Regions from separate parts of the Homo sapiens genome. Here all the other regions are reported to be linked to region 1. The links are microRNA targets in miRTarBase. Many come from high-throughput screens and were not tested one by one. Region 1 holds a microRNA gene; each other region holds the end of a gene's coding sequence.
The links. Region 1 holds the annotated microRNA hsa-miR-122-5p (UGGAGUGUGACAAUGGUGUUUG, at 1,155-1,176, shown strand). A microRNA usually pairs through its seed, bases 2 to 8, with sites in the 3' UTR of a target mRNA and lowers its output. Matches are read on the target gene's strand: a 7mer-m8 pairs with bases 2 to 8, a 7mer-A1 pairs with bases 2 to 7 and ends in A, and an 8mer does both.

Region 1 (4,068 bases):
GGAAAGAAAAAAAGAGGCAACTTCAACACTCCAACCCATGGGAGCAGAACGACTTTCAGCTTTCGCAGGGGGATAATCACTGCAAGTCCAGCTTGAAGAGGGTGATTTCAGGATCTACATGAGAATAAGGCGCAATTTTTTTTTTTTTTTTCTGAAAAATACGGAAGGGTTCATTTACAGCTGTTAAAGATGGGCCGGTTTTAGGGCTAAAGCAAGACTCTGGTCAGATGTTAACAACTCAGTTATCCTGGGGAAAAAATAACTGGCTCCCAACCCTTTCCCTTTTCAGCATTTGCAGGAAAAGAAGGAGTAGGTAAAATGCTTTATTTCCTCTCATTCTCCATGGTGGGCAGGAGTTCACATAACAATTATAAACCATCTTTAACAGGAAAGCCAAGTAAATCCTGTAGGGATTTATTTGGAGCTCCCTTTTTGCTAGAAAATGAGTATCATGAACTAAAAATGGACTCGTTTCCTCTCTCTCCATCTTCCTCTCTTTCTTCTCTCCCCTCATCTCCCACCCACCGCCATGGTGGAAAATGACTGTGGTCAAGAAGATTGAACATTTGAGCAAGACCAGATGCCTTTATATCCAATAGATGCCACGGAGAGTAGATCACAACACATCTAACTGCTGTATCCCCATATAAAATAATTTTAATTTTCCTAGACTGCAGAATTGATCACATTTACTGATGATGGATTGGGAAGTAGGTGAAGAGGTGAGAGTTGGAGAGTATCCATTCATTCGGCCAGATTATTCTCATTTATAATGTAGTCTTCCAATAAGTATTTATTTCCAGAAATCTATTCCCTCTAGAGATTCTTTCTCTCTCAGCCATTTTAGAAAATTGTTGCAAACAGAGTTCCTGTCCATTTTCACAGGAAGTTTTTGCAGAAGGGGTTTGCTGGGTGGCAGTGGAACACAGGCAGTGGACCCCTCTACTACTCTACTGTTCCAGAACACAGAAGCCTTTCATTGAGAGTGTTCAGCTCTTCCCATTGCTCAAGATGCTTGTACCCGTGATGCTTCTTTTCTCTGCTTAGGTCACAATATGTGGAGCTGACAAGGTTCCCCTATTATCAGTGACAATGGTGGAATGTGGAGGTGAAGTTAACACCTTCGTGGCTACAGAGTTTCCTTAGCAGAGCTGTGGAGTGTGACAATGGTGTTTGTGTCTAAACTATCAAACGCCATTATCACACTAAATAGCTACTGCTAGGCAATCCTTCCCTCGATAAATGTCTTGGCATCGTTTGCTTTGAGCAAGAAGGTTCATCTGATATCAGTCTTCTCAATCTTGTGTACTTACTGAATAAAGTCTGGCTCTTTTGCACTCATAACCAATATGGTTAGCTGAACCCTGCCTCTCACATGCTGTTGTTACATACCTTAGCTGGTGATTAATTTTCTTGTTTTCCCAAGTCAATAAAAAGATTGCAGACCAGGCACGGTGGCTCACGCCTGAAATCCCAGCACTTTGGGAGGCCAAGGCAGGCGGATCACTTGAGCTCAGGAGTTCAAGTCCAGCCTGGGCAGCATGGTGAAACCGTGTCTCTACAAAAACTACAAAAATTAGCCAGGCATGGTGGCATGTGCCTGTAATCTCAGCTACTTGAGAGGCTGAGGTGGGAGGATCAATTGAGCCCACGAGGTTGAGGCTGTAGTGAGCTGTGATGGTACCACTGCACTCCAGCCTGTGTGACAGAGCAAGATCCTGTCTCAAAAAATGAAAATAAAAAGATTGCAGAGTTCCTCAGAGCCCCCAACACAAGGCCAGGCACGAGGTAATCATTTAACCCATGCTTATAGACTTAAAATGAATAGTTAGGAAAGTGTTAGACGCAGAAGGCTAAGACTGGGCTAAATCTATGTTATGCAGACAGACCGCAAGCTTATAGGTACAAAATTAAGGTGTGTGGGTCCTTCTCTTTTCGTCGTTAAAAAATCCAACTTTCTAATAAACTTACACATGGTTTCACTGACGTTTCAGAAATTCTAGAATATGTTTGATTTCTACTGATTTCAATCAATTACTAGGCTGATTACTGAATTCGTACACTAGGCCTTTCTTCCTCTTGCATCAGTGAATTACCATCAGAAAATTGTTTATGAAGCATGTGTGAGCTGCCATAGCAAATCTGGGACCCATGCAGTTTCTAGGACAGTTGGCCCAGCCAGGTGCTCTGGTTTGGAACCCATTCTGTCTCTGAGAGGTGTCTAAAGTCAGGAGTAGGTTTCGTTTGTGCCAGACTAAAGCTTCCCTCCCCAGGCTTGGTTAAATGAAGTAGGACATGTTTAATCAAATAGACAGGGTTAGATCAACCATCAGAAACAAATTCAACCATTCAACCATTCACTTATGAAATAAATATGTGTAGAGACTACCGTGTGCCTGACACTGTCCTAGGCATTGAAGACACTTTTAAATTAAATGTGTCTGATGTTATTTCCAGAGATGGGCATTCACTGGCTCGCATTATATTTTGGGACCATTGTAATTGTTCCAAACGGGAGCCAAATGAGCAAAACTTTGCGAAATAATTCTGAGTCCCTTGCTGGAAAGCCTCACCTGAATGCAGCCCACACATTTATGATACACTACAAAGGCTTCAAGGTCATGAGATGCCTCTGTCCAAAGAAGAAGAAGAGCACCCCTGCCTGCCCTGCATCTCTTACCACCTCTCATTTCTTCCCTCCTGGCACCATCTACTGTCAAGAAGAGAATCAGACTCCCTGAAATAATTGAGACACTGACATTCCTTTTTGTGTGTATTTTTTTGGCAAAGGCTCTAATTGAACAGGCATTAATAGAGGGCTCTACTGTTATACAGATCACGCTCATGCACACTGTATTAGTCTGTGTTTTCATGCTGCTGACAAAGACATACCCGAGACTGGGAAGAAAAAGAGGTTTAATTGGACTTACAGTTCCACATGGCTAGGGAGACCTCAGAATCATGGCGGGAGATGAAAGGCACTTCTTACGTGGCATCAGCAATAGAAAATGAGGAAAAAGCCAAAGTGGAAACCCCTGATAAACCCATCAGATCTCGTGAGACTTATTCACTATCATGAGAATAGCAGGGGAAAGACTGACCCCCATGATTCAATTACCTTTCCCTGGGTCCCTCCCACAGCACGTGGGAATTCTGTGCGATACAATTGAAGCCGAGATCTGGATGGGGACTCAGCCAAACCATATCACATGCCATTTCATTTGATCCATACAACATGGGGCAAAGATGATCGGTTTGACAAACAGAGTCTAAAGGGTTCTGGAATCGTCTGGTCCTCCAGCCACAACTCAACATGGATCTCTTAAGTCTAAAGTTCTGTCCTGTACCTGCAGCCTCCTTTGGCCTAGTTATTTTGTGAAATCTCATGCTTCACAGTCGAATCTGTGTAGAACCTGGGTTAATCACGCCAGTATGCGATCAATATCCTCATCTCCCCATCTGCTTTGTCAGTGGATTCTGAGGGAAAACCTGTAAATTAGAGAGGGATGAGCCATATAAGAATGTCTCCTTGTGAGTGTTCATTGTGCAGAGAAAGCTGAAAATTGCAAAACCCTGTAATCATGAAATGAAAGAGAAGGAACATCTAAGTGGTAGCTTTGGGGTCAGGAAGAGGGTAGACAAACTGTCCCAACACCAAGCAGCCATCTACATGACCCAGCCACCTGATGTGGCACCAAATGACCCAGAGTCTTGAGGTTCTGAACTGTTCCCAGACTCGGGGACAATGTGAGGACTGGGTCTTCCATGCTCCTTTTCACTCCCACTCACCCTGAGATTTTTCTCAGGTGGAATTAAACAGGGAGCCAAGTGAATAGCATTCTGTGTCTTTTCTGCTAGGTTGGCTCATTTAATGGCTTATTATGATTGCTGCCTGGATTCGTTTTGCATTCGGGATTGGAGACCTGTCATTTCTGTAGATCTCTAAGGAACACACATAGAAGGCAAAGCTTCCCTCTCCCCTTTCTACCTCTAATTACAATCCTGCTGCTCCAAATCTCTGATGATGGCATCTTCCCAGACCAGCTTTTATCTCCCCTTCCCTCCCCA
Region 2 (4,068 bases), not on the chromosome of region 1:
TCTCGCCCGCCGCCGCCGCGGAGTGGGAGTGGGGAGGAGGGGAACAGTCCTTGGAGCCGGCCCCGGGAGTACTCCCGGAGCCTGCCGCCCTGGAAGCCGCCACGATGGACCGGGCTGAGTCGCCCGCCGGAGGGGAAGCAGTGTAGTCGGGCACGGAGGGGCAGGCAGAGAGGGGCCCCAAGGCGGAGCTGGGTCCGGGGCGGAGCGGTGTTCGCACACAAAGCGCTGGGGCTGGACCCAGGGTTCGGGGCCAAGGCGAGAAGTGGGAGCGGGGCCCGCTTTGGGGACCCGGACAGCGGTGTGGCCACCGCGCACACCTCCGACAGCGCCGCATTCCTGGGCCTTGGGAGGAGGCTCTGAGTAGGGCCGCCTGGGGCGCGTCTTCAGGGTCCTCCCGGCACTGGGGTGACCGCCGAGCTAGACGCGCCTGAGGGCTGAGCCCCAGGGCTCGTGATCTGCTCCCGGAGGCGCCCCCCAGGCAGGGCCGTGAGCCGGGCGAGGGAGAGTCCTGGGCTGCCCCTGAGCCCCGGGGCCACGGGAAGAACTTGCAGCGACGTCATCCCTGCCCCGGACACAGTCCCGGGCCCAGGGAGGACCTGGAACATTCCCTTCCTCCCCCCCCCCCCCCCCGCCCCCGCCCATCAGCCCAGCCTGCAAGGAGGCGCCACCGGACCTGCACACTCAGGAGCAGGTGAGCCAGGGACAAGCAGGAGCCCCGCCCCTTCCGAACTGGTGGAGCAGGAGCTCCCAGGGTGCAGCTGCAGCCACCTTGCCGCGGCTGTGGACATTTTCTGTGCTCTCAGAGGCCCAGCAAAGTCCCCTGCCCACTGCAGGCTCCAGGGTGCCTACTCCGGCTGCCTGGCTTCTCTCCACTGTTAGCACCCACTCTGAACTCAGAGCAAGGTCGGGCCGAGCCTGGGTACTGTCACAGCCTGGCCGAGCGTGCACACGCTCAGGACAGTGCTGATACGCCAGCCCCCTGCCGTCTCGGCCCCCTTTGGAACTTGGGCACCAACAAGCGTGGGAGGGAGGCTGAGAGGGGTCTGAAGACAGCTGGACACTGACTTGCAGGCGCTCCTTGGCATGAACAGCCTGGGAGCAGGAGGCAGACAGGTTCCTGGGTGGAAGGGGATGGGTCCCCAGTGAAGTCCCACCCTCAAGCTGGTGAGGGCTTGAAGCCTGCAGACCAGAGAGGTAACTTGTGGTGCTGCTCCCTGGGCCCACTCATGGCTGCCCATGGACCAATCAGCATGCATTTCCTCCCTCTGAGGCTCATAAAATCCCCCAGACTCAGCTAGATTGGAAGAGAGGATGGGAAGACAATGGATGACCTACCTGTGGAGAGAAACTACCCATTCCAGAACCTCCTCTCTGCTGAAAGCTGAACACTCAATGGGAAGACCTGTTTGCAGAGAGGAGCCAGCCACTCCAGGGTCTCCGTTCTGCTAGAAGCTGAACACTCGTTGGGACACCCTTGCTGTGGAAAGGACATCCTTACTGTGGAAATGAGCTACTAACTGCAGGTCTCCTTCCTCTTCATCTTCCTTATCCTTCTGTTCCATTGCTCAGTAATGCTCCTCTTCATCTGTCTCATTCTCCACTTGTCTGCTTGATGCAGGAGCTGAGGAGCTGCACAGCAAGGTTAAAAGAGCTGTAACACAAACAGGGCTGCAACATGCCCCTTGCTCCCCACAGGGAGAGAAGAGCTCTGGCCCTCGGAGAAGCCCAGACCTGGGAGCTCCTTGAGCCCGGGCTGTGACTCCCTCTTTGGGGCCCTGGTTGGCGTCACTGCATTCGCCAGTGCCACTGTTGGAAGCTGCTTGTGATGCGCCTGGTCCAGGGGGAAGCTGTTTGTTGTGTGCCTGGTCCAGCCACCTCATGGAGAGCCTGTGCTGGCACCTGGAGCTGCCCAACCTGGGCAGCAGCTTGTGTGTGTGACTGCACAGTGGCCACGCTTGCTCACACACCCCTAGCACACCCCTCTGCTCCACCCGTCTCAATCTCCCTTGGATCCGGGATCCAGGTTGGTAGCAAGTGCGAGTGGGCAGAAGCAGCCCAGTGGGCCCAGAGCAAAACTCAGGCAAAGGTGCCACTAGACTGGCCAGGAAAGCGACACCCTAAAGATCCCATAATGCTGATATGTTAATTCTATTCTATAAGCACCACACAGAAGTGATAGCTTTTATTTCTTATTTTGTCTAGCCTGGAGACAGAGCTAAGGATTCCTTGAACTGCAAAGTCTTTTCCAGTTCTTAGTTTATACAATCCATACTCACCTTCTGCCTAACTAAGCATTGTCATTTTTGTGCCAAATGAAGAGTAGGACTCCTACGATTGTCCTCAGACTCTCTTGGCTCAATCCTCCTGCTTTAACCTTTCCTACTTCAAAAACTCCTGAAGTTTTGCTTCCCCTTCTATAGAATGGAAATATATGTCGCAATACTTACTGCAAAGAAAATTATATATTTTAAAAATAGACTAAAGAGATGTTGTGAGACATCAGACATCAATCAGATGTTGTGAGAACTGATTTCTGCATCAGAATATCTCCTTGACTTTACAGCTATCCTTTAATCCTGGCTCAAAGTTCCAGAAGAAAGATGATCCAATATAATACTCCTATTTGGACTTTGAGTCATACACATTCCTTCTTCTGAGAAAACGTGCTTCTGCATGAATCCTCCCTTCATTATTTTCAGCTCATCTATTATTGAATCTGAAACCCCAGGTTAACTGACTGATCACTCTCATCAGTGGCAGATTTTGGTGTAACATAGGACACATCACTCCCAATTCAGGTCAAGTCCCAATTATCTTGCCTCTCAATATGACATGTTCAATGTTGTATTTCATTCTACTTCATTTTAATGTAAAAAGTCTTTTCTGGTGAAGTCAGTCTTTTATTTTCTCATAAAAATTCACCCTTTGGGTTTTTCATAGGGTATTCCCATAACCAAACACACTTTACACTTTCCTAGTACATAACCCAATACTTTCTTCTTTCCCCACAGTCCTTACATGAAGCCTACTCAGACCGACATCACTGTATCATTTTTTTGTATTCTGAAGTCCTTCAGCACTTGATTCCTTTAAGTTTAATCTTGGTATTCTATTGGGAATCATATGGAAATGTACAATGATATTTATTGAATGAACAGGAAACAGGGAAAGACATTGACCAGAAAAAGTGTTTATTCATCAAGTCTTTAAAGATACAAAAACACGTGTCTTCTGTGGAGCTCTGAGAACAGGACTCCAGCAAAGCACTTTTCAGCCTTGTGGTCTTCAAGCATTTCCAAGATCTGTGACATTGGAAAGAAAAAAAATTAAGACAGATTTGGGTCTCCATGAGCAGAGAGTATTCTTTCCCTTAGTTCTGGGTAGCATAGTGCCCAAGGAAACCTAATCAGTACAGTGGGAAACCAAATCTATTCCAAATCATTACCCATAAGCAATCCTATGGACTCTCTGAGGTTTGACAGAGTCAGCGGCCCTCTCCAATAAATGTGTTTTTCTATAATAATGTGCAGTGTGAGTAATTTGATGTTTTTGACAAATATTTACCCAGCGTTTTATGAAGGAGAAGGTTTGGGGGGCAAGCTGAAGGAGCTCTGACTGCCTTTTGGAGGAGTGTGAGTGGCTTACCTTTGCTGCAAGGAGCATTGTACTCAGCAATTGCAAACTCATCTGAAAAAAAAAAAACCAACAAAAAACCAGAAATCATTACATGAAGTGAGAAAGAAAGCAAACATCTGTGGGATACAGGCCAAGGAAGGAGTTTGTTGTGGGAAGAACAGTATTGTACCAGAAACATAAGCATCATTCATCTGATGTGTTGCTTGCTACCTTATATTCTCCTTTCAAATATAGTGTTTTATATATTCTTTTATCCCAAACTCCTGAAGGACTCTTCAGATGTTCTACTTACTTAAATCTCATATTGTCATACAGTCCATTTATCTGATGAAAAGGGAACTAAATATCCCACAGGTGTTTTGTATTAGTAGTTGATAAATTTATAATGTAGGTTGTTTCTATAATGTATGTATAAGAGACAAAAAGAGGGGC
Region 3 (4,068 bases), not on the chromosome of region 1:
TTCCATGACAGGAAGTTCTATTGGGCAGCATTATTCTAGAGCCCTGAACATTAATAAATCTTGAGTTTTAGCCCCTGTGCCCTGAAGAATTAACCACCCACAAAAATTTCCCCAGTTGAAAAAATTACATTGACTCTACCAGGATGTCTTTTTTTTTTTTTTTGAGACGGAGTCTCGCTCTGTCGCCCAGGCTGGAGTGCAGTGGCACGATCTCGGCTCACTGCAAGCTTCGCCTCCCGGGTTCACGCCATTCTTCTGCCTCAGCTTCCCGAGTAGCTGAGACTACAGGCCCCCGCCACCATGCCTGGCTAATTTTTTATATTTTTAGTAGAGACGGGGTTTCACCATGTTAGCCAGGATGGTCTCGATCTCCTGACCTTGTGATCCGCCTACCTTGGCCTCCCAGAGTGCTGGGATTACAGGCGTGAGCCACCGCACCCAGCGGTTTTTTGTTTTTTTTTTTTTTTTTTAAGACAGGGTCTCACTCTGTCGTCCAAACTAGAGTGCAGTGGCGCCATCACAGCTCACTGCAGCTTTGACCTCCTGGGCTCAAACAATCCTCCCACCTCAGCCTCCCAAGTAGCTGAGACTATAGGCACGTACCACCACACTTGGCTAATTTGTATATTTTTAGTACAGATGGGGTTTCGTCATGATGCTCAGGCTGGTCTCAAAATCCTGGGCTCGAGTTATCTGCCCACCTCAGCCTTCCAAAGTGCTGGGGTTACAGGCATGAGCCGCTGTGCCTGGCCCAGGATGAGACTTGATTAGATATTTAACATCTCTTTTAATATTTAATAAAATATCCCTTTAACAAAATGAAGAAAGATATTTTTAGCATACAAGTTATATAAAAGGATGTTATTTAAATCTAGAGCATCTGAACTGAATTTTTTCACAAATTTCTTTTGGCCCTACTCTATACTTAACTGTCCACAGATGAAAAGCTTAATATTTGCAAGTAATCCCCTCCAATTCCTCATTAATGTTTGTAAGGTATTTGCTTTCTACAGAAATTACACCTTTACAACCCAGAAATCCAACCTATTTGTAGTCTGTATTGCTGTTATTAGATGTGCTTAGATTTGATACTTATTTTAACTCCTTTTTTGTAAAAATTAAACAGAAATAAAACAGTCAAACACTAGATAGTATCAGTCATACTGAACTTAAATATGTCATATAAACGTTTTCTCAAGCTTGTGGACCCTACCTGGACATTCATTCATTCAATCAATTCATTCAATACTACTTAATCAGATAAGAAAGGAGCATCTCAAATAATTCAACCCACAACAGAACAAACACTTGAGGATAACATCCTTGTGGGGGAAATTACCATTGCTGACTTTATTTTCTCCCTTTTGTTACAGATTTAGGATGTTGCAGTCAAGCACCAGATAAGAGTGACTTCCCTAAATGTTATTCAAGGTCCCTTCAGAAATCTGATAATCTGTTAAAATTTTTGTTGTGAAATGCCTATTTTATCAGCACTGCTAACCAGATAAGCACACATTTAAGTTAACCATATCAGAGTGCAATGCATTTCGAAAAATCCAAAAAACTAAAAACAAGAAAATTACTTCCCCAGTAGCTAAGTCCCACCAAAATCCTGAGCGTCTTCAGACATTCAGAGACGCAAACAAAATTAAGATACCAAACTACAGATTCATAGTTCAAATACCCAATCAGATCTGTTATTCAATCTTGACAGAAATACGCAACTCATGAGGATTTTCTTAAAATGGGCCTAGTTCCTAGTCACTGTTCAATGAACATAATGATAAATATCAGGTGACAATCTAAAAGCTCTAACTTATACCATACAAATAATTTTTCAGTTAGGGTCAAACATAAGAATTATAAGATCAAGCCAATCAATCTCTTTCTCAAAAGGTGACTTGAGTAGGTATGTAAGCTATAATAGTTTATAAAATGCATTCAAAGTGGGTTTTATTTGGTCTTCTCAAGTAGTTAGATGACATTCTATTTGAGATAACATGAAACTGGACTGTATGTATGCATAGATGTAAATTCTGTGATTCATTAGCATTAAAAGGAAAAGTTAAGCCCTCTAATAGGAACAAACTAATCTGATATTTTAATTTTACACAAAGTTTAAATATTTAAGATAAAAAGAAATAAGGCTGGGCCAGGCACGGTGGCTCACGCCTGTAATCCCAGCACTTTGGTAGGTCGAGGCAGGCAGATCACAAGGTTAAGCGATCGAGACCATCCTGGCCAACATGGTGAAACCCCATCTCTACTAAAAATACAAAAATTAGCCAGACGTAGTGGCACAGTCCCGAGTAGTCCCAGCTACTCAGGAGGCTGAGGCAGAAGAATCACTTGAACCCGGGAGGCAGAGGTTCCAGCGAGCCAAGATCACACCACTGTACTCCAGCCTGGGTGACAGAGTGAGACTCTGTCTCAAAAAAAAAAAAAAAAAAAAAAAAGATATAAAGAAATAAAAGGAAAACATAAAATATACCAAACCTTACCACTTTGTACCTTGTTAAAGGAAGAACTGAAATTATCAATAAAAATCCAGTAAGAATTTTTGGCATGCCCATTTATTCAACATGATTAGGTAACTGTATCATATATGCACCATACAGGAATATCAAGTTTTTAAAAAAACAGAACACTGAGTATTAAAAAGGTATTGTGGCCTTAATTAAATCCTTGATTCAGAAGGCACTTCAGTAACTTTCAGTGCTTCAAAGTCATTAACATCATCACTGTACAGTAATGAAGAAAAAATTTGTACCATGTGCAATTTCCAGTATTTATGCAAGAAAACCTTATTTTAGGCATTTTTTTCTTTCTATACAATTAAAATAAAATAAGCATTAGTATGATTTTTACAAATATTGTTTATTTTAATGAAGCTGGTACAGACAATGTCCATTTAAAACCCATATCCCAGGCCAAAAAGTACAAATAAAATCAAAAAGAGCAGTGTTCTGTTGTATTCATTTCTGCATGTATAGCTTTATTAATTGCTAATGAAAATTAGAACTTTTCTGGGATCTTCTGACAAGATTTTTAAAAAATCTTAAAATGCCTTTTCTTCAGTGAAGCCATCTTTGGAGTTAGTCATTACTCTCACCTTATCTGTCATCTTGACTTCAACCTGATATTCCTCTTCTTTTGGTCCAGACCCTCAAATTTTAAAAGTAGCTTCAAGTTAAGGAAAGGTCATTTTTCCACAGTTCAGTTCTCTGAAAAACTTCCATCTCCCACTGAAAGTCACAGTCCAGGAGTGAAGTAATCACATGCTAGAACATCAGGGCCAATTGGAAAGTCATTATGAACACTTGCATTGGTCGATCTTATTTATCACCACAAGCCTGAAAATGCAATGTCCTGAAAAAGGTGACCTCTCTGTGCACACGTAATTTTTAAAAAGGAGAGGGTAATATGAAGGGGACTGAGGCTTGATCACCAAAAATCAGCACAATGAAAACAAACAATAATGAATAATGAGCACTAGAATTCAAATTACCAGATGTTTCAAAGAGATGGGGTGCCAGTTTTCAATTCCGTTTTGAACACCACATTACAAAAGAACTATTTTTAAAAATAAAAAAGGATTGAGGGAAAAGAAAAAAAATAAAAAGAATATCTAAACTGTTGAATGACCCCCCGTTTGTTCCTGATAAACTTCAATCACATCTTCTTCCTCCATTCCCAGCTGTAAGAGGAAAGAAAAATGTTAGACTATAAAAGCAGTTTTTAAATTGACTACAATTACGTGGCCACTAATTTAAAAGTGCAAAGAGATCCAAATGTGACCCATACTTACACTCCTCTAATATTAAGAATCCTGTGTTCTTTAATCTAAAGAATATAGAGGTGTCTTTCCTTCTGATTCTGTCTATTTAGTTATGCATCTTACTTTCCTGAGTCAATTTCACTTCCCAGTTTATTCGCTATATAAAACTGAAGTGTTTTTGACAGCCATGTTAAAGAACTTTTAAATCTAATGAAACATGTATTTAATAGTTTAAGTGATAGTTTAATAGGATATATCTAATTTGGTGTTTGTTTGTTTTTGTTTTTTGA
Region 4 (4,068 bases), not on the chromosome of region 1:
TGACCTTAGTTTTTGAGTGAATTAATGAACAAAATGAAGTGATATCAGTATTGACTTGTAGAGAAGAGAGAGTGTCTGTGCCCATATATTAAAAAATATTTTCTATTACAGTTCCTTTTTGCCTAGTTATATTTGAGCATTTCAGACATATGCATAAGGCATTAAACCTTGCTTGGGAGAAGCTCTGAATCCTTTGAGGGCAGGTGTGACAAATGGTCTTTCCTGTGACAGGGGTAGATAGCGCCATCTTGGAAATGCAAGCACAGGGCTTGGAGGGTTGATAAGGGGAATTCTTAATTCTGACTGTAGCTATAATAAGAGATAATTTAATGTGTTAATTAATTCAACATTTAATCTAAAATAGCTAGCAAATAGATTTTTCTGGTGCTAGAATCTTACCCTGACGCACATTTTTTATTTTTGTGTTTTCTGTTTCAGAGACGCCCAAGCAGATGGCCTGCGATGAAGTTTAGAAGAGGCTCTGGACATCCTGCCTATGCTGAAGTTGAACCAGTTGGAGAGAAAGAAGGCTTTATTGTATCAGAGCAGTGCTAAAATTTCTAGGACAGAACAACACCAGTACTGGTTTACAGGTGTTAAGACTAAAATTTTGCCTATACCTTTAAGACAAACAAACAAACACACACACAAACAAGCTCTAAGCTGCTGTAGCCTGAAGAAGACAAGATTTCTGGACAAGCTCAGCCCAGGAAACAAAGGGTAAACAAAAAACTAAAACTTATACAAGATACCATTTACACTGAACATAGAATTCCCTAGTGGAATGTCATCTATAGTTCACTCGGAACATCTCCCGTGGACTTATCTGAAGTATGACAAGATTATAATGCTTTTGGCTTAGGTGCAGGGTTGCAAAGGGATCAGAAAAAAAAAATCATAATAAAGCTTTAGTTCATGAGGGATCGACACCTTTGGTTCAAATGTTCTCTGATGTCTCAAAGATAACTGTTTTCCAAAGCCTGAACCCTTTCACTCAAAAGAGCAATGATGAATGTCTCAAGATTGCTAAGAAAAACAGCCCATGCAAGAGTGAGAACAAACACAAAATAAGAGATTTTCTACATTTTCAAAACAGATGTGTGGCAAAAGGATGTTGTTTTTCTGGTCTAGATCCATCTGTACCAACAAGTTCATCACTTTACAGAACGAATCTTTTTATCCGTACAGGAGGTTCAAACCATGTCTGCCTCTTCCTTTGTAATGAATGACCTTTCTATGAGCTGTGACAAAATTTCCGAACAATTAACTAAGGATTTGGGAAGAGGGGGTGGCAAACGGGGCTTTCTGTTTTCCTGCCTCAGCATGAAAACATCTGATTTATGCTTTATGGAAGCCTTACCTCCAATCCCCAACTGTTAAGTCCCATGAAACCACAGTTGCTCTGGGCTGATGGAAACAAAAGGAAACAGTATGAAGAGTTCCTTAATCATTTTTGAAACAAAAATGTTAAGGGATTTTAAACATATGATTATTTTTAATTTTATGCCTTTTCAGTACTAAACACCCATTTCATTGCTGATTCCTGTCTAAGAAGCCATTCACGTCAGCATGGCGATAGAAAGAATGAAAAAACCCTGCTGAATCATACAGTAATTTTCTTTAAAGCACATAGTAGTTACATAAATATATATATATAAATATATTTTTGTTTATAACTAACACAAGGCAGGATCTTGTGACTCTAAGAGTGCGTTTTGTCATCAAGGCAAAACAGATGCAAGATGCATCACTGCATTACTTCCATAGAGTTGTAAAATAATCCTTAATATTAGAATATTTTTCTGTCACTTAGCAAAAGTGGTTCAGTTCATTGCCGCGCCCATCATGTTCTTGACTATTTGATCCACTTTTTCGTTTATGTCAACCCCTTCCCTCTCTGGCTAAATAAAGTGGATGCAGAAAGCTCCTTAAATGGAGATATCGATTGCCTTGGAATCACAATCCTGATTTTGAAAATTCCTCATGAATGAAGAAAGGAATGGCATCCCTTGAGAAGGAAAGTGGTTAATATACATACTGAGCTCCTAAAGTTTAAATTCAGGTACTGAGTGTACAATTTCACCAACATTCTAACCCATGAAACTTTTACACTCTGTGCCAAGAAACTGTTGGCTTTTGTAAGGTACAGTGCTCAACATTTGCAGATTCAGGTCTCAAGAAGCAGAGATGTCTCATAAGCAGCATTTTCCCAACAGTTTAGCATCTGTACACATCTGCCTTGGTCATCAGTCCACTCACAGAGTACCATACTTTATCATCACAAGTGTCTGACGTGAACGAATGCCATTTTCTATTCCATATATTTTGCTTTACAATTTTAAGTATTTGATGAAGATGGTAACTTTTTCCTAACTTAGTTAACTATTAAAAAAAATTTTGAAAAGCAAGGTGATTGAAGGATTGTGATGACAATCTCTTTGCAGCAGCTATGTATGGTTTATGTGAAGTATCCCCACTTATTCTTGTGGAGCAGGTTTGGTGAGACAGCAATAACCAAATGACATGCCAATATTACTGGTGCAACTGGTATTCTACAAATGCATAAGGAACACATAGACGACTTCCTTTTAGGATAAAATGATGCTTCTTTCACTACCTTTTGTGGTAGCTGTGGCTTCCAATAGCAACTGTTTGACAGTTATATAAATCTTGCATGTGTATTCTTAGTTTGTGTCCCTTAAGTACTACTTAATTCTCAAGTAGTAATGTTATTCTTATACCCTTCAGCGTTCTATTTTGATTCAAAACAATTGATTCAAAACAATTTTGAATCAATTTTCTATTTTGATTCAAAACAATTGATAATTCTGTAAAAAAACATAAACACTGAATTCTTCAGTGAACCAAAGCAACAAATAATAGAGAAAACTTCTTGAAACTGGAGTGTGGGAAAACTTCTTAACAGAACTAAGAGTTAAAGGTAGTGAGAAGTGTGTGGTGTGTGAATTCTTTAGTGGTAAGGGGAAATGTGGGCTAAATCCTTTTCTTTCATGAAACTCTCATTCTATTTTATATTTCTGGTTTGTTCTTGTTCCCATGTGAGAAAACATACAGTTTCTGAAAATTCAAAATGGTCATCAATGCTTTGGACTTTACATAATTATGTATTAGAGAAGGTGCAACTGTACATTACTTAATATACTATGAACATAATAGAATAACAAAAAAAGATAACAAAGAGATGCAAACTTCTGGATAAATCAGATAAATGGTGCTACAGAGGAATTTAGTTATTTCAGCTTAATTATTTGTAAAAATAATAATCAGTGACTAGGTAAAGATACTGAAACTCAAGAAAAATATCTTGACCCATTTATGTCTAGTGTTCCATTATTGGAACGCTAAGCTTATGGGAGTTATTTAGAGCCTACTGCTCAAGGTCATCACCAAGGTCTGGTTGCAAAAATTCAAAAAATTGCAACCTCAGGCATAAATGGCTTAAGCCCAAGAGATGGCACTGACCATAAATGGTGGCTTGTGTGTGAAGGGTTTGGACTTCAAGATATACTAACACCTAGAAAACTAAAAGTGCAATTGACCCCCAATTACTATTTTAGTTTGAGGTATCAAGGGCATTTGCCAATCTCTTATATGTAGCTTCTAGAGTTGTGCTGTCCAATATTATATCCACTAGCCAACGTGGCTTTTGAAATTAAAATTAATTAAAATTAAATTAAAAATGTAATTCTTCAGTCACACCAGCCACATTTCAAAGGCTCAATAGCCACGCCTGGCTTGTGGCTACCATATTGGATAACAAGAAACACTTCCGTGGTTGAAGAAAATTTTAATGGACAATGCTGTGTTTCATTTGAATTCGTTGTCCTTGAAGAAAAGGGAAGAAGAGGAAAGAAACAAGATTTGGTAGCTCTTGGGCATATCCAAGCATTTTTGATTTTAGAGAGGCCCTATGGAGTAATGAAAAAAATACAAGCTGACACAGCTTTAAATCCCCACTGTGTTATCTTGGGAAAATCACTTCAACCTCCTTGAGTCTCAATTTGCAATTTTGGAAAAGAAAAACAATTTTTGTCCTGTCTTTCTTGC
Region 5 (4,068 bases), not on the chromosome of region 1:
TTATTTTGTTGAGGTTAAACATATAATTTTAACGTATTCAAACTTATTAATGGACATTTAAAAAGCTGAAAAAGTGAAGAGCTGTACCATGTCGTGGATTATTTTAATGTCATAAAATTCAAAGGAATGCCACATTTCAATAAAACATTTTAAGAAGTTGACATACTTTTATTAGAATCATGCAAATATTAGAGAAAGGTTAATGGCTTTTTTTTTAGTAGACATTACTGAGAAAACTGGCTCATTATATCACAAAAAGTGAAACTTGGATCTCATATATAAAGGTGTATTTCACTGAATTTTTTTTTTTTTTTTTGAGACAGAGTTTCCACTCTTGTCGCCCAGGCTGGAGTGCAATGGCGCGATCTTGGCTCACTGCAACCTCTGCCTCCTGGGTTCAAGCGATTCTCCTGCCTCAGCCTCCCGAAGTAACTGGGATTACAGGCGCCTGCCACCACACCTAGCTCATTTTTTTTTTTTTTTTTTTTTGTATTTTCAGTAGAGACAAGGTTTCAGTCTTGAATTCCTAACCTCCGGTGATCCACCTGCCTCAGCCTCCCAAAGTTCTGGGATTACAGGCATGAGAAACCATGCCCAGCCGATTTCTCTCATTTTTTTTTTTTTTTTTTTTTAAGAGACAAGGTCTCGCTGTGTTGCCCAGGCTGGTCTCAAACTCCTGGGCTCAAGCAATCCTCCTGCCTTGGCCTCCTGAGTACAAAAGTGCATCTCAAATAGTTTTAAAATGATGTGCAATATTTAGCAACCAGTACAGCCCAGCATCAACCAATTAGAAGAAGTGTCTGACTGTTGAGAACAGATGCAGCCAAGGTGTCACCCCGGTGTGTACCAGCTGGACTTCAGCACTGTGTAGTGTTCTCAATATGAAAGGAAAAGCTGAACAGCTAACAGGAGAAGATGTAAAATATCTTAACAACTCTATTAAATAAGCAATCAAAAAGCAACCAACTGCAGAACAAGATAATTCATACTGTCTACATTAAAATTAAAATTTTCTTTTTTTTTTGAGACAAAGTCTCTCTGTCACTCAGGCTGATGTGCAGTGGCACTGTCTCTGTTCACTGCAGCCTCCACCTCCCGGGTTCAAGTGATTCTCCTGCCTCTGCCTCCTGAGTAGCTGGGATTACAAGCATGCGCCACTGCACCCAGCTAATTTTTGTATTTTTAGTAGAGATGGGATTTCACCAAGTTGGTCAGGGTGGTCTTGAACTCCTGGCCTCAAGTGATCCACCCACCCCGGCCACCGAAAGTGCTGGGATTACAGACCTGAGCCATCACGCCTAGCCAAAATTAAGAATTTCTGTTCAGTGACGGATACCCCTAGATACAAAGAAAATTTCAATTTTTTCCCCTTTAAATCTTTTTTTTGAGTGGAGCCTTGCTCTGTCGCCAGGCTGGAGTGCAGTGGTGGAACCTTGGCTCACTGCAATCTCCGCCTCCTGGGTTTAAGCGATTCCCCTGCCTCAGCCTCCAGAGTAGCTGGGACTACAGGTGTGCGCCACCATGCCCAGCTAATTTTTTGTATTTTAGTAGAGACGGGGTTTCACCATGTTGGCCAGGAGGGTCTCAATCTCCTGCCCTCATGATCTGCCCGCCTTGGCCTCCCAAAGCCCCCTTTTTAATTTTTTTTTGTAGAGACGAGGTCTCGCTATGTTGCCCAGGCTAGTCTCGAACTCCTGGGCTGCAGCGATCCTTCTGCCTGGGCCTCCCAAAGTGCTGGGATTACCAGTGAACCTCCATACCCAGCCCAAATATGCATTCTTGGAATTATCTGCAATTGCCCAAGAATGTACAAGCAACTCCTGAGAATAAACCAAAAAAGATAAGAAACTCCATGAGAAAATGGGCAATGCACAGGAAGGGAAACCAGAAAGGCTAAGTGAAAAAATTCCCCAAATTAATGCTGATCAGATGAATGTATGTTAAAGCACTGCACCACTATCTACCCATGAGACTGGCAAAAATTAGGTAGTCTGGCAATACAAGTGCTGGCAAGGATAAGGAGAAAAGGGCGGCCTCAAGTAGGAGGGTCAGTCACCGTTCTAAAGAAAATCTGGAAAACCAAAGAGAAACTGACCTCTGTGACCTATAGGCCCATCCTGGGTACACATGCCACACAAGCACAGAAGGGAACACACGAAAGGATGTTTATCGTGGCCTGTATCCGGTGCCAAGGGGTCAGGGGCACCCAGGTGTCCCCCACTTTAGGCAATGTGTGTAAACTGCAATTGACATTGTGGAGTGCCACATGGCAGGTCAAAGCAATACTGCATTTCTAGAAGAGTCAATGGGGCTAGATCTTAGCACACATTGAGTGAAAACAGCATAAGACCTATTGCACAATAGCACTATGTACAGTAAAAGCACATATTCACACATGAAACGTGGTATTTTACAAATACATTCATATTCAAAGACATGGGTGCTTATGGGAGAGGATGGTGTAAAGAAAGGGAAAAAAGCCATAAAACCAGAGAATCTTTGCATGGGACTGTATTCCTGAGATCCCAAACCAAAGGGATGAATGTGCTGTTATGCCTTAAATGTGTGCACCAGGAAATGCAAACTAGAAAGGGTGGCTCTGAAGGGTCCTCAGGTGAGGAAGACCCCCAGGGCTGAGAATCCACCACCTTCATCCTTCAAAAGAGTACCTCAGTTGTCTGCTTACGCTTCAGCCAGCATGTGTGAGCTTGGTCATTTCCTGCAAGCCAGGCAACCACACCAGTGTATAAGCCTCAAGCAAATGTCACTCCCAAGCCCCAAATGGGACTAAGGCCTCTGCTGGGCTAGGCGTGGTGTAAATCCCAGGCCTGGAAGCTCCTACCCAACCCTCATTTGTTTCAACTCACTTTCAATATGTGCATAGTTTCATAAAGCAGACATTTCCATGAGGAAAAGAGGATGGTGGTGAAAGGGGAGGGGTGAAGGGACATCTCCAAGTCACAGAGGCTGCAAAACTCAGCATGACTTGTGGACGGAGCCACAGGCCACCCAGGGCAACAACACCCACATAACTCACCAAGTGGTTAACGGCTCTAAACCAGGGTCAACAGGAGAGGGGACAAAAGTCACTCCTTGATTTTGCTGCAGCTTAAAGATAAGTTCTACCTCAGCTTATGCTAGCCCTTATGGGGCAAAAAAGGGAAAGTCATTCTCCCCAAGTCCAGGCTGGGCCGTCAAACAGGGAGTGGGGTGTCAGCCCCAGACCTCAATGAGGTCCCCAGATTCCATGCCCAGGTCAGCTGGCAGCTCCCTGCCTGAAAGCTTTGTCCCATCAAAGAAGAAGGAGAGCTTCCGTCCCGACAGTCCCATGGCCTCCTCATAGTGGGACATGAGGGTCTTTAGAGGGGAATCCTGGATGGAGACAAAAGAAAATGGACGTCAGAACATGAAAGGGGGCGGGGATCCCGTAGGGATAGACGAGGAACTTGGGACAGGGAGGATGGCGGCAGGGGCGGAAACAATAAAGTCAGGGCCCCATGCGGGGAAAGGAGAGAGGACAAAGAAGCCAGCCCAGCCAGGCTCCTCTCTGGGAGCTGGGACGAATCCTGTCATCCCTCTGGGCTCCAAGTTGCTCAGGTAGAGGACGGGGGCCACGAGCCCAAGGCTTAGGGGTATAGGCTCTAAGTCAGGCAAGTCCTCCTAGCCTCAGCCTCCTTCCCTATGAAACAGAAGTGTGTACCAATGACTAAGAGAGCCCAGATTCTAGAGTGAGGATGAGTCGAGCTGGAGGCCAGGCTCTCCCACCTATTAGATATGTGACCTTAGAAAAATGTTACAGGTTATGTTCCCCAGAGAAGACACCTTGTGGTCTTAACCCCTGTTAAGTGTGAATGTGATGTGATTTGGAGACGGGGCCTTTGCAGATGCAATCAAGTTGAGGTTGTACTGGATTGGGACGAGTGCTAATGCCGTGGGACTGGTAGACAACTCACTGCAACCTCTGCCTCCTGGGTTCAAGCAATTCTCCTGCCTCAGCCTCCTGAGTAGCTGCAACTACAGGCACAGGCCACCACACCCAGCTAAGTTTTTGTATTTTTGGTAGAGACA
Region 6 (4,068 bases), not on the chromosome of region 1:
GGAGGCTGAGAAGAGGTTTGCAGCTTCTACTGTCCTTGATAGGGGAGGGGAGGGGAGACTGCATGCCATCTGATATTCAATTCCTCAACCATACTGGCAATTTGTTTTGGCTAGAACATTTAAAAGTGTAATAGCTCCACTGGGTTTCCTTATTCCACTTCTCAGATTTCAGAAAATCTTTATAATTCCTGAGTAGTTGCAGTGAGTGTGTAGAAAGACACCATCATCAACATAAGGATTCAAAAGGCAACTGTTGGGCAGTAGGACCATCACCTATGACCTCTGGGCCCCCACCGTCATCATAAACATCCACTTCTGCTTGGCCACACTTTTTCTTATTTCTTTTTCCCCAGTAAGCTGCCACTTATTGAGATAAAAGCCATACAGCACACCTCCTAACCTGGTTTTTGATACTTCATGGGCCTGATGCTTTTTTTTTTGAAACGGAGTCTCACTGTCGCCCAGGCTGGAGTGCAGTGGTGCTATCTCGGCTAGCTGCAAGCTCCACCTCCTGGGTTCACGCCATTCTCCTGCCTCAGCCTCCCGAGTAGCTGGGACTACAGGCGCCCACCACCACGCCCGGCTAATTTTTTGTATTTTTAGTAGAGATGGGGTTTCACCGTGTTAGCCAGGATGGTCTCAATCTCCTGACCTCGTGATCCGCCCCCGCTTGGCCTCCCAAAGTGCTGGGATTATAGGCATGAGCCACCACGCCCGGCCCGGGCCTGATGCTTTTTACCTAACGTGTCTGTAGTGTAATTTATGATGTACTTTGTGTAATTTATGTAACTTATGATATTGTGTGCTCTGATGCTGTCAATTGCTCATGCAAGAATCTGAACTACTGTCAAACTGTGTCCTCAGATTTAATGAATATTGTCTAAGAGGAGACAAAGTTGTTTGTAAGTTAAGGGTTCTTAGAGTTACTACTAAGTCAGGTGTGTCTGGTTAGATGCAGCATAGCAAACTGGTTACTCTCCTTTCTAGTTCAGGGAGGGCTATGCCTAGAACAGCCACTTAAAGCCTGCTGGCAGGATGTGCTTAAGCTGCCAAATGGCATCCCGATCACCTCCTCTCCAGGAAAAGTTCAGATCCTCCTGCTACACTGAACACAAGCTCAACAGCATTTTAGAGGGATCATTTTCAAGGCCTCCAGATTATTTTAGATGAACTTCCTTGAACAAATTGTCATTGACCTTTACTGAGCATCAATTTGAGTTAAAAATGAAGGCTGTGTCAGCAACGTGGTACATTGGTGGACTTGGGAGGGGGCATCCCAGATACATGATGCAGGGTTCAGAATAGGTGAGAATAATGAAGATTCTGCCATGGTGTCTTACAACACTAACATCATACATCGACTAGTGTGACAAAACCACTAGGTTTCCCCAACCGAGGCAGGCAAACCTTGCTTTGTAGAAATAGGTATTTTACTGCAAAGTTTTAGTCTGTTCACTAGGATGAAATCCAAAGTGGGCTGTATTTGTCTAACTCTCAAATTAAGTGTTCTCACTCATTATTCTTCAGCACTGGTTCCTGAAGGGTTACGTGGCCACAGTGGCAGCCCTGCTTACCTTCACTGATTTCTCGTAAGCATCCTACTTACAGACCAAAGTGGACTGCAATGAGTACACCTCAAACCTCCCGCTGCTCTCACCATCAAGCCTATAAGGATTGAGACTTCTGCTGGCCCCACATAACTCAAAAGAGCTGAATTATATGGCATGGGTAAAACTGGCACTTTTCTTGTGCATGATAACACTAGAAGGAGCATACAATGGTTATAAGTGGAATCAGTTTTTAATTGATCCGTTCTTTTGGTTGTCTTCAGAGTTAAGTGAAAATGAAGAGAAACTATGTAAGAAAGCAGCATAAAAAGCTTCTTGCTCACAAGCAACTTCAAGCCTTTTTAGTCATGCATGTTCCTTCTCGGCTTTTCTGTTTTGCTTGTCTCGTTCCTTCATTGTGAATTTTAAAAATCCAACCATGTTACCATATTCCTTTCAGTTGCACCAGTAGAAAAGGCGGTTAGCACCTGCATGAATATGGCTTCTGTGACTTGATTTGATCCTGACTGCAGTCTTCATTCTCGAAGCTGACATTAGATTAGGATATGGTGCTGCTTTCATTACTGGATCTATTATAGAAGCATTCCTGAGGGGCTGCTGGCTGGCAGGCATATCCTGGGAAGATGCTCAGGCACCTGGCAAGTCCAGGGGTTCTGGAAAGATGCTGGGGCAAGGGGCAGGCCACATGTGGAGGCTGGATCAGGAAGGAATTTAAGATTTCTGCTCATCTCTGGACTGTCCTCCACCAATTGGGGGGAGAAAGCTCGGCCTCTTCAAGGCCTAAAAATGAGTCTTTGATCATATTGTCCATTCATCTCCAGTCCTCTTTCTTCACCCCTCACAAGATTTCAGAGACGTGGCTTAAAGACAAAAGTGTCAGAGAGGTCAAAGGTGGTTTCCTTATGTGACTCAAGAGCCAGGGTCAGAAAGAGCTGCCTGTGAACAATATTCCACTTGGAAGTTTTCTATTAATGTAATTACTTTCATTTTGATGTAAGGAACCTTTTTTCTGCCCTTCAGTTTTTTTGACATTAAAGAGTCCTGCTTCATCCTACTTCACATGCCTATCAGCCAAGGTCATGAGCAGGTGCTGTGAGTTGCATTTGCTCTCCTGTCTGGAAACTGCCTCCTGGGGATGGGGGTCGTCCAGCTGCACAGTCACAGCACATAACGTAGAACTCGGCTGCGTATCAACACAACATTGCCCATTCATGAACGGTCCAAAATGTAAAAGGTGCTCTGCCGCTGGGTCTCTTGTCCAAGCACACCCAAGGCTGTGCTTGCTCAGGTATTACATTTTCTCCTGGGAGTTGGGGTGCAGAATCTCTGCTGGCCCAGAAAAACCACAAAGGACCGATGTAAAAACAAGAATGGGCCTCACTTAACAACTGATGTCAACTCCTTGCATGGTAACTTGTTCTCCAGGATGAAGTTTATGGCTATTTGTCTCCCTCTCTCCACCCAGGTATGATTCTGTTTTTTCTCCTTTTCATCACGTAAACCATAACAACAAAAAATCATTTTTTTAGTCTGGATAATACATGTTCTTGGACCTCTTCAAGAATAGTTTTGGTGAGTTGCAACATTATTGGAGAGAAAGATGCTGCAGGATTTTGCTGCAACAGGATCAAAACTAAGACCAATAATCAAAACAGCAGTGTGTAACGACAAAGACTTGAACTCTCCCAAGGCAACTGTCCTCAATGATCTTTTCTCTCTTCTGTGACAATGTGACATATATCAAGCTTTGGTTATAAAGCTGGAAATCTCAGCTTTTAAAAAAATTTTGGAAACATTTTGGTATTTCTTCTGCTCTTAGAGTGGACTTTGGGCTTCCACAAGAAACAGTCATCAAATATTTCTGCAATGTTCCCTTAAATAGTTTTCCATTGTTCCTGCGGCTTAATGAGGGACTTCTTAAAGAAGGCATGGGGCACTCTCTGCAGATGACCTCAGAAAGAGATGAGCAAAAACAAACATTTAGTGACACATCTTTCAAGAACGTCCTGCAACCCTGTGGTCACAAAGAGTATGCGTGCAAGGTCCTCCACCTCCAGTGCCATCATTTCCATGTGTCTTCATCTTAGTTAGTGGTCACACTGGCTTCCTTCTGACGCAGTCTTTCTTTCTGTTAAGGAAAAAAAAATGAATGTATCATTTTCTTTCATCTTTCTCAAGTTTTGATACATTTCTCAAATTTTGGTCTAGAATGCTGAGTTTCCGGAATTGTGCCAAATGGCCTAGAAATGAGAGTACCTCTACTGCTTTCCCTAAGCTCTTAGTTATCTGCCCCTCCCTACCTATCACCCTTACTCCCCAGAAAAACAAACAAGAAATCAATAACCAGCCAATCTACCAACTACATCCATCTAAAACACGGGCCTTTACCATGCCAGGGTGGTCTTTTCTGTTCTCTTCTTTTGTGACAAAGACCCTAACTTTGTAGTGTTACTCAAGGACCCCTTCCGTCCCTACCTTTGGCTCATTGATGGAATTAGAG
Region 7 (4,068 bases), not on the chromosome of region 1:
GCTTGTGCAGTCAGCACACATTGACTTTGCGTTCGTATCAGAATGTGACACTCCATTTGGTTGGGGTCTGTTTTAAACCTTTACATTTATCTTCCTGAGAAGGAACCATATGTCCAGTTTTTCTGTAACCAAATATCAAAAGACACAGGTGGAACAATTTTATGTCTAAGAATTTCATGAAGAGTGTTTGGAATAATGTAAAAAACTTTTCTTTCCTTTTCAAAGTTCTTTTAGTTGACAAATAATAATTGTACATATTTGTGGGGTACATAGTCACTGCATGTTTTGATACATATATGGTGATGAGATCAGAGTAATTAGCAAGAATCACCTTTGAATTCATATGATCCATACTCTCAGGACATCTGTAGCCTGCGGCTGCTAGAATGACCATCACATTCTTTTCCTTCATGTAGAAGAGAAAAAGCGCCATTGAATTCCCCCTTTGCCTACTATGAAAGCAAAACTTGCAAGTAAGAGGGGAAGGTGTGCATGAGATAAGAGAGCAGAGTTGGGACAACTTTTGTAGGGGCATACAGTCTTCTGGGCTTCTGTGGCTTTGGAAGCCTGTGCCTGAGAATGTTTGAGAGCCCCGGCTTTCTTAAGGGCTCTCTGGGCTGATATTTAGAAGAGATGCTCAGATTTCAAGGGTAGAAGGGAAGAGATTTAGAGTCATTTGTGGCTACTTTTCATGGTCTAGTAGTGCGGCTGTAAGTCATTTCATCATATCTTGATTTCTTGTCCACTTAACAAAAATAAAATGTAGCTAAAGAGTTTACTAAACCTTTGATAAAAATATTATGAATATGAAAAAAATTATGAATTATAACTTCTAGATTTAAGGACAATGAAATTTAAGAAAAAAAAATCCCCACCCATCACTTTAATCCCTTAGATCCAGGTTAAGGCACCCAGCCTGATAGTGAATGTCTGTTGACAACAACTTCTTTGTATTTGAAGACAGTATTGACTACAGATGGTACCAAGGAGTCAAAGTCATGGCAGGCTATCTTGGGAGAAATCTTCCTCATGAAGCAAATTTTCCATTTAAAGATGAAGCATGAAAATCAACATCTATTTTATAGAAAATAGGAAATATTTAATATATATAAATTTATTTGCCTTGGCAATTATTTATTTACAATTGATGATTGATATCAACAATTGAGGTAAAAATATACATGAGGTATAAATATAATATTTAAATGCAATATCATACTTTATTTCCATTGGCAAGATAACAATGAATAAAATACTGTGGTATTTGACAAACAAGCTTGATGCATCGTTTTTTCTCCTTTTTTTCCCTTTTCCTTGTTTTAAAAAGATGCACTGTGTTGTTATGCAGCGGTGATATGATTACTATGTGCACAAAAACAAAAAAGTCAGATAATTCGAAGAGAGGGAGAATCAGAAATACAATCACATTTGTTCTTATTCTGTTTTAGGGATCTTCTAGGTCCTCGTTTCTGAGTGTGGTTTTAGGCCAGCAGCATAGGCATCCCTGAGACTCCTTAGAAATGCAGAATCTCAGGCCCAGCCCAGATTACTTGGAGCAGAGTCTGCAGTTTCACAAGATCCCCAGGCAATTCATGTGCATGTGAAATCTGGACAAGCACCTCTCTGGGCGATACAAAGCCACTCATCCTCGTGTGCCTATCACGTTTTCCAAACACATAGGATCCCATCTCAGGAGCAGGACCAGTGTTTAGCTAGATTAAACTTCACTGGTGATCTTGTTGATGCATATAAAGTAATCTGGCATATATGGTTAAATTCAAGATGTTATGGCAGAAGTGACTTTGTTTTGCTCACAAAGCATTGCCCAAAAGGTAAATTATGGATTTACTGCTTCCTTCTTAGGTAGATATGGGAATGAAAAATTTCTAGGTCATAATTCAAACTGTAAGATTTTCCTCGCACCATACCAAACTCATAGAAAGCTTTTTTATTCCTCTCAATAAAATAATTGCACATTGCTGATAACAGAAACATTACATAAATGCATATAATGCAAAAAAACCTGAAAACACTCATTTGCTTTTCTTTTTTTCTCCAACACCAGTTGCTAAATCTTATCAATCTCTATTATGGATGACCAAAGAAAATCTCTCTCCCTGAAATCAAACACACAATAAGTTATCTTTCTCTCTATAGCTGTTGAATTACAATAAAAAGCACATTCGATCCATTAGCAGTTGGCTAAAGGGAGTCAATTCGCTTCATCTGTACAATAATAAATAAGGTTGGGTCAAATGCATAGGTAGCTTGGACTGGCTAGTGAAGAAACACAGAAGAATTAATAAACCCGATTATACTATCTAAAACTAATCAAAGAACATAGTTTTGGTCTCATGTTAGTTAAAAACCCTGTCTTTCAGATTGTAAAAGTTTAATGAATTACATTTTAAGAGTATCCTACACATAACAAAATATGAATTCCCTGAAGCTGTAACGATCTAGGATTTGAACGGAATGGCCATCATCTCCCTTTGTATGGTGTCTGGAGTTGAATTCAGTGCAATAAGAAAACACCAATTAACTGTGACCAAATAGGCCACTGGTCAAATAGAATGACATTTAATAACATTATGAAATGTATTTATAAAAACTTGAGACAACACAGGGGCTCCCTTTGGCTGTGAAGAAGTAAAGGCTATGATATTCATCTTGACTTGGGGTCTGTAGTGATGGGCATGGGAGCGAGAGGTATCGCTTCTGTTTCAGTCACTCTCGCTGACTCCGGTGGTCCATATCTCACTGAAATTCCATCTTACTGGGCCCAGTGGCAACTCCTCATCTAGCTTTAAATTTGGTAATGACTTCTCACCCCCCCATTTGCTTTAAGGAGGAGTAATTATTATTTCCTTGCTTTATCCCAGATCTCCACTCTCAGTTTTTGAATAGCAGAAACAAAGCGTTAACACATAAGTCTCCTTTAATGTTATTTTCCTTTGGTTAACTCATCTTTGGTTAGGCATCAGGGCATGTTCACACCTTGGTGTTAGCAGCAGGTTCTGCACAGCTTACAGGACAGTGGAGAGATGGGGCCCAGAGCCACTTGGAAAGAACTGTGTGAGGAAGGGACTCACTGAGTCAGACACCGTCATTTTCAAAACACACAATTCTATATAAAATTGGTATTTTACATATATACAGTAAAGATGGAGATATACACACATATGTACATATGCTATACATACATTTATTTACAGTTAGGTATACGCTTCTTAGAAGCCTTTAAATAGCAAATTAGGCAATGCACAAGGAATAGTCCATTTAATTTTAAGTAATATATATAAAGTTCTCATTTTAAAATTATATTAGTAGGGATGTAGCCATCTCCAGGAAGGCTAAGAAAGTTCTTGGAAATTCTTGCATCTCCAACATTCCAACTTCTTAACGTTTCCATTTTTAGGCATTAACCGCGTCCTTCAGTTCCTCTTTCTCTCGCTTTCTCACATGCACACTCTCTGCCACACTCGTCACTTTAGCTTCCTCTTCCCTGAGTTTGATGTCACACTGGGCAAAACTCAGATTTTAGTTTCTGGGCCCTCAGCAATGAGGGGCTGGAAAGAGTTTCTAATCCTGGCAACTTCTGCTGCACACAGATGTCCAAAGCCTTTGCTGTACCATTCTGGGGAGTGACCTCTGTGGGGAAAGAAATCAGAAAGGAAGTGGGAAAGTTTGTTTCCAAATCACAGCAATTAGTTTTGGTGGACAGGGCTGCCCTTGGGCCCCGATGACCAGTGAACCTGCAGACAGCTCGGGCTGCTGCCTTGAGGGGCTCAGGACGTCATTCTGCCATCAGGGGCCTTGAAAACGTCCTGGCTGCTAAGTATTCATGTTGTCATTTGAGTACTCATCAGGTGCTTTAAAATGATACCAACATCTTGGGGTAAAATGAAAAGATTCAGATGAAATCCAGAATTTACTGTGAAAACTCCGTTTTGTCTACCCAGACCAAGAACTGGGTTTAGCATCATGAATGCCTTGAAGGGGTTGGATGTAAGTTACTTACTTCTCAAAGAACTACCAGAGGGAGCAGCAAAAGGGGACAGGCATAAA

Region 2: the mRNA of A2M is a reported target of hsa-miR-122-5p. The part of its 3' UTR that is shown has no 7-base or 8-base seed match.
Region 3: miRTarBase lists SUMO1 as a target of hsa-miR-122-5p. The part of its 3' UTR that is shown has no 7-base or 8-base seed match.
Region 4: the mRNA of PLXDC2 is a reported target of hsa-miR-122-5p. The part of its 3' UTR that is shown has no 7-base or 8-base seed match.
Region 5: the mRNA of NFATC2IP is a reported target of hsa-miR-122-5p. Seed matches in the 3' UTR shown: 7mer-A1 at 2,256-2,262, 7mer-A1 at 1,414-1,420 and 7mer-A1 at 348-354.
Region 6: miRTarBase lists FMN1 as a target of hsa-miR-122-5p. Seed matches in the 3' UTR shown: 7mer-A1 at 468-474.
Region 7: miRTarBase lists STARD13 as a target of hsa-miR-122-5p. The part of its 3' UTR that is shown has no 7-base or 8-base seed match.

The regions. Positions count from the first base shown.
Region 1 is chr18:58,449,934-58,454,001 of GRCh38, forward strand. It overlaps MIR122 (microRNA 122), which reads left to right and starts at 1,141; the gene lies at 1,141-1,225. It overlaps MIR122HG (MIR122 host gene), which reads left to right. Exons shown (of 3, transcript NR_170245.1): 3 at 886-1,348. It overlaps MIR3591 (microRNA 3591), which reads right to left and starts at 1,219; the gene lies at 1,147-1,219.
Region 2 is chr12:9,064,538-9,068,605 of GRCh38, forward strand. It overlaps A2M (alpha-2-macroglobulin), which reads right to left. Exons shown (of 36, transcript NM_000014.6): 35 at 3,646-3,687; 36 at 3,171-3,302. The coding sequence ends at 3,286. It overlaps LINC00612 (long intergenic non-protein coding RNA 612), which reads right to left and starts at 533. Exons shown (of 3, transcript NR_034140.1): 1 at 1-533. A2M-AS1 (A2M antisense RNA 1) reads left to right here and starts at 640. Exons shown (of 2, transcript NR_137425.1): 1 at 640-691; 2 at 1,289-3,518. It also overlaps a transcript of KLRG1 not described here. RefSeq lists a silencer at 1-28.
Region 3 is chr2:202,203,625-202,207,692 of GRCh38, forward strand. SUMO1 (small ubiquitin like modifier 1) reads right to left here. Exons shown (of 5, transcript NM_003352.8): 5 at 2,558-3,697. The coding sequence ends at 3,629. It overlaps KIAA2012, which reads left to right. Exons shown (of 24, transcript NM_001277372.4): 24 at 1,374-1,564. Among named protein-coding and RNA genes, the nearest start is that of SUMO1, 33 kb to the right of the region's middle.
Region 4 is chr10:20,279,265-20,283,332 of GRCh38, forward strand. PLXDC2 (plexin domain containing 2) reads left to right here. Exons shown (of 14, transcript NM_032812.9): 14 at 439-4,068. The coding sequence ends at 555. Among named protein-coding and RNA genes, the nearest start is that of MIR4675, 270 kb to the right of the region's middle.
Region 5 is chr16:28,963,009-28,967,076 of GRCh38, reverse strand. NFATC2IP (nuclear factor of activated T cells 2 interacting protein) reads right to left here. Exons shown (of 8, transcript NM_032815.4): 8 at 1-3,372. The coding sequence ends at 3,214. It overlaps NFATC2IP-AS1 (NFATC2IP antisense RNA 1), which reads left to right and starts at 633. Exons shown (of 2, transcript NR_186408.1): 1 at 633-661.
Region 6 is chr15:32,770,659-32,774,726 of GRCh38, forward strand. It overlaps FMN1 (formin 1), which reads right to left. Exons shown (of 21, transcript NM_001277313.2): 21 at 1-3,696. The coding sequence ends at 3,652. Among named protein-coding and RNA genes, the nearest start is that of GREM1-AS1, 54 kb to the left of the region's middle. RefSeq lists an enhancer at 2,910-4,068.
Region 7 is chr13:33,102,060-33,106,127 of GRCh38, forward strand. STARD13 (StAR related lipid transfer domain containing 13) reads right to left here. Exons shown (of 14, transcript NM_178006.4): 14 at 1,078-3,651. The coding sequence ends at 3,534. Among named protein-coding and RNA genes, the nearest start is that of KL, 88 kb to the left of the region's middle.